Regions from separate parts of the Homo sapiens genome. Here region 2 is linked to region 1. The links come from fine-mapping of genetic effects on gene expression. A gene starts in region 1. The other region holds a variant in brackets. All regions are shown on one strand. Distances are between the middles of the regions.

Region 1 (2,803 bases):
TACACCACAAGGCATCGGGACACACCTTTACCCCAGCTGCTTTGTGTGGTTGCAGGTTAACCAGACATGCAGCTAGGAGTTCACCTAAAACCTTCCTTTCCCCGGTACATACCTTGGTGTTGATTTGACAGCTGGATGCTGAGTATTGATCCCAGTGTTCAGGGATAGTTACTTCATTAAGACTTCTGAGATCCCCCATTTGCTTGAAGATAAAAACAGGCAAAGGTATAAACAGATAAACAGTCACACAAATAAGTAGCTGTGTGGGCCATTACTTTTAAAGCATAGTAGATGTTATTTGTGTTTGGAGAAGCTTAATGATACACTCAAGAATCCAATAGTAGAAACTGTTTGCTTTCAGGAAGAAAACGTTATATCAGGAAGGTATGTTTGAAGAAAAGAACTATATAACAGCGATCCACAATACACCTGTTCATTTGTAGCATAATAGTTACACCTGCTCCCTGGGGCTTTTTTGAGATTTCAGTCTTTGGTGTAAGACACACATACACACATGTGCACACACAATGGTAAGCATGCATGCTCTTCAGCTTCAACCCTCAGTGCGCAGTAAAATAAAAAATATAGTTGAATCATCTGTCTCAGCCCCAGCTAGAGCCCACGTCTTCCAACATGAATTTTAAAATACCTTTTTGCCTTTTAAAATATGCTGTAGAGGCCGGGCGCGGTGGCTCACGCCTGTAATCCCAGCACTTTGGGAGGTCAAGGCAGGCAGATCACGAGGTCAGGAGATGGAGACCATCCTGGCTAACAAGGTGAAACCCCGTCTCTACTAAAAATACAAAAAAGATTAGCTGGGCGTGGTGGCAGGTGCCTGTTGTCCCAGCTACTCAGGAGGCTGAGGCAGGAGAATGGCGTGAACCCGGGAGGCGGAGCTTGCAGTGAGCCGAGATCGCGCCACTGCACTCCAGCCGGGGCAACAGAGCGAGATTCCATCTCAAAAAAAAAAAAAATGCTGTAGATGAGTTTTAGTTTATCCGGGTCCTTTGTAATTAATCTCTGCATTCATCATAATTGGAAGAAAAGCTCAAAGTAAGAAAATAGCTTTCCTCCAAGTTTATTGCAATCAGAGAAAAATACAATTTAAATGTTTTTGTTTCCCATTTCTGTTCCTTACATGCATTGTCTAGAGTGGTTCCTGGTCTATAAGCCAGTGGGTTGAGATACCTGACCAGACCACCTTTTCAACCCAGTTCTTTCTCCTCTTTGTATTTCTCCCATACAATACAGTATTGAATATTTCATAACCTATGGGTGTATGTTTTTGGCAATGTGGCTAAGTCAGGCAGCATTGAGGACTGTCCTGGTGACAGTCCGGTGCAGCCCTCACCCAGGCTCCCACATTCACACCCCTCCACTCTCCAGTGGGCTGTGTAAGTTAACGGCAAATAAATGGCCCAGAATGGCTTCCTGTTAGAGAAAAAAAGGGACAAAGACTTCTGCCCTTAAAACTCTGGTAACAAAAGTAATCTAGTGGAAATCAACATTACTAGGAATATCCTATGATTTTGGTGGTGTTGAGTTCAAAGACAGCATGGCCGAATTGTGACCATCCACCCAGTCACATGAGGCAAAAACCCAGGCCCTACCTGTGTCCTGACCTCCAGCTTCCTCCCCACGGCCAGTTGGTTAGAACGTGTAGGGAGTGTACCTCTCCCAGCCGTGGAATCCCCTCACCATCTTCACCCCTTCCCCACCTTCAAAGACTTTCATGGCCGAGTGTGGTCTGACCACACTTGATCCAAAGCCCTTCCTCTGAGCTCTCAGCTCCACGTCACAACCTCGTGACCACGTGCCTCTCACTGTCATGTGCTTAGATATGTGTGTGTGTGTCCACCTCACCACACACTGTGAGATCCTTGAGGGCACGTTGTCTCTTTCATTTCTGTGTCTCCAGTGCCTAAAATGGAAAGTGCTCACTTACTAAATAAATATACAATATAAAAAATAATTTTTATCCCTTGTCCCATTTGAGATGGAAAATGAGTAAAGTTTACAAGTATTAATATAGTCAGCATCCCACTAAGACCACACAGACACTGAGATGAGCAGAGGATGCTGAGGAGCAAATGCAAAATAAACTATGAGAACTGTGACAGCTTCCAGTGCTCTTCATTATAAATATCAGCAATTGCTAATATCCAATAACATGTCACACACTCTACATTAAATCATCACAAGTCTCTAAGGCAGGTGTTAGTTTTCTCTTTGTACAGCCCAAGAAGCTGAGACAAGAGTCACACAACCAGCCAATAGAGAGAAAAGATTCAAACCCGGAGACCTTCTGTCTCTAATCCCACCCTCCTCCCACTGTCTCCTGCTGCCTCTCTGTTTCAAAGCTTGGCTCTGAGACTATGAGCACTGCCAAAATTTTACAACAGTTTGCGTATGTCATGGTCTGCAAAAGCTGTGGATGGCACTGTGGTGGCAGCCTCAATAGAAGGCTGAGACTACTTACCAGAGGGAGGATTTCCTGAGCTCCGATCACACCTGCTCTTTGTTCTCTCTCTGTCTGTCTCTCTGTGTGTGTCTCTCTCTCTCTCTCTCTCTCTCTCTCTCTCTCTCTCTCTCTCTCTCAATACAGACAGGGTCTCACTCTATTGCTCATGCTGGAGTGCAGTGGCGTGATCATAGCTCACTGCAGCCTCAAAGTCCTGGGCTCAAGTGATCCTCCTGCTTCAGTCTCCTGAGTAGCTGGGACTACAGGCATGCACCACCAGGCCTGGCTAATTTATTTATTTTTATTTTAATTTTGTAGAGACAAGGTCTCGTCCCTTCCCCA
Region 2 (2,803 bases), 49 kb before region 1:
CTGTCTTGTATGCTGCCTTACAAACCTTACAGCTGCCCTCACGCTTTGCACCTGTGAATGTGGACTCTCCTTCTTCGGGTGCCTTGCTCTGCATGGTTCAGTGCCTTCGCTGTGCTCTTCTACCTGAAATCTCCTGCCTCTACTTGTCTACCAGGAAAACCCTAACCGACCACCAAGCCTCAGCTCAAATGCTGTGTCCTATGGAAGTTCCTCTAGGCAGATTTAGTGGCTGCTTCTGCTGGACCTCCCATAGACACACACACACCTTTGTCCACACATCCATTATAACCACTATCTTTTCTCATTGCATATGCTTATTATGTTCAAATTCATCTCCCCACTAGACTAAGTCCCTTGAGGCCAGGAATGATGTCTTACCTTTGCATTCTCAGCAGCTAGTCTATTGCCCAGTAATAAAGTATTACTTAATGAATACATCAAATGAATGTATGAATAAATGATACCTAAACAAAGTTCTACAGGAGCCTAGAAATGGGAGCTATAACCGGTGACTGGCCACACTGAAGAAGCAGCATTTGACCTTGTATTGAAGAACAAGTTTGATTTTGCTTGGCAGAAAAAAAAAAAGGAGAGGACTATAAGCAGAAGAATAACAAGAACAAAGGCATAGGAGTGGGCAAATCCGTGGTCTTCTCAGAGAGCACCTCATGTTACAGGTCCAGTGGAAGACAGACATGAAAGAGGAAGTTTGGACCAGAATAATGTATGTGCTAAGGAGCTGTGGGCCTTATTCTGGACATAATAAAGAACCATGAAAAAATTTTGAATAGGGAAAAGTCATGACCAGATACATGACTTGATTGGAGGTTGGTTAGAAGGAAATTGCTATGATCTGGGCAATTGAAGTAAGTGAAAGCCTGATAGAGTTGCAGCAGCAGTAGGAGGAGGGAAACCAAGTAAATTTGAGAAGCATTTTGGAAATAGGATCAAGATGACTTGGCAACCAATTGAATATGGGAAGTGAGGAACCAGTGAAGCTGAAGCTTGGCCAAGCTTTCTGACCTGGCAACTGAGTGAACACTCAGACAACACCACCTACAACTATATCGTCTTTACAGGCAGATTGGAAGCTCTGAGAGAGTAAGGCCCTTGCTCTTGGTGTATCCTCTACATCTCTTGTAGCTCCTAACACTGACCGTGCATTCAGAGGTTCCTAGTAAACATTTGTTGAAAGAATTGATGATGTTTCTTATACTCACCAAATATGTCAAAAAGGAAAATATAATACAATGTCTTTTCTTCAGAGACATTTTCAAATTCTCAGCATGTTTTTCCACCACAAATGAATTCACAACTATCTCATTCAACTTGTACATCCACAAAAGTGACCCATTGTTGCACAAACTGAAATCTCCTTTAA[G/C]ATTGTGTGTGTGCTGGGGAGGACAGTCAAACGGTTGGTATTTTTACTTTTTTTTTTTTTTTTTTTGGAGAGAGGGCTATGATATTTTTGGTCCTCTGAAAATGAATCCAAAACAATAAAACAAGCTGAATGTTTTCCTCTAGTGGAAAGAAAGAAAGCAAACCTACTACAGGTAAATTGAAATCTTCAAACAGACCCATAACACACTGCTGAGACATTCTTGAGATGATGGCTTTAGTTAGACTGGGGCCACACATCTTTACATTTCTTCATTCACCTGGCAGGACTAATGAGATTTTATGGCGGGCAAGCTGTTTATCCCTTGGGTGACATTGGCAAGCACATCTATATCTTTATCAATCAAGGGTTTTCTGCACTGCAACTCCCACCCCCAACCTAAAGATTGCCCCAGCCTGGATCACAACATTTACAACACGTAAGAACCTCATTCCTTTTCATCAACACTCCACCCATCACTTTCTGTTACCTAGATCTAATCATGTGTGTCCTAACATCACATTGCTCCATAACAAGGGGCAGGAAGAAGAAATGAATAAAAGGAAAAGAAAAAAAGGTTTCGATGGTACCTGCAAGTTGATGCAGAGCTGACAGCTCCATGGCTAGAATATTATATTTGCCCAATAGAACAATAGGTCTGCTGGCAAGCTGTTACCTACAGTACTGTATCTGCTGAACAGGTGGAAAAAGCTCTCTTCCCCTCTGCAGTGGTTTAGGAACATGAGGAGGTGACCACCACTCCAGTTTGGAAACAAGGATTTGGTTCCCCTTTGTAGCTTTCATATTGCCTGAATTCACCTGCAATGTCTATTTTCAGTACTTAATAAATACTCATATACACATGAACATACAAACTCACATATTTAACAATTGCCATCATAAACTCTCAGGATGATGTATCCATTCTACCTTTGCAACCTGGAAAATGTCCCCAGATCTCAGACCAAGGAGATACTGGGGAAATGGCTCTGCAAAAATCCAGGAACAGGTTTTGGTTCTGGTTCTCCCATAGAATATATCTATAACACCTGGACAGAATGCTTGGTGCAGCTGCTTGAGAACTCTTGAAAAAGTAAACAGTAGCAGGTAGATTGTGGGAGAAAACCAGAATTCAAAAGTATCACCAATTGACTGTGGATTTACCATGTTTACCCTCTGTATTCCCTGGACAGGACTCAAGGCAGCCTTTGTGACAGGGAGGGTTCCAGCATAAACCTTCTAGTTCAGACTCAAGGTGAGAGAAGAGTCTTCTGGCAGTGGCAGCCACAGCATGGAAGGCCCACAGCACAGAATATGCTGTCGAAGCGGGACCTTCCTCTTCAGTCAAAGGAATCATGGTCCCAAGACCATGCTTTTTCTTTTCTCTGGGCTCCCACCACTTGGTCCTGGACAGGGCAGAGTCAC

The links. PIP is the estimated chance that this variant, and not a neighbour inherited with it, causes the effect.
Region 2: its variant is fine-mapped to the expression of LINC00426 in blood mononuclear cells (TOPMed, PIP above 0.99).

Annotation. Positions count from the first base shown.
Region 1 is chr13:30,372,173-30,374,975 of GRCh38, forward strand. It overlaps LINC00426 (long intergenic non-protein coding RNA 426), which reads right to left and starts at 1,742. Exons shown (of 5, transcript NR_024464.2): 1 at 1,611-1,742; 2 at 113-202.
Region 2 is chr13:30,322,743-30,325,545 of GRCh38, forward strand. All of the region lies in intron 1 of LOC124903145 (a long non-coding RNA gene), which reads left to right. Among named protein-coding and RNA genes, the nearest start is that of LINC00427, 4.2 kb to the left of the region's middle. The variant G/C (reference allele first, on the strand shown) is at 1,382.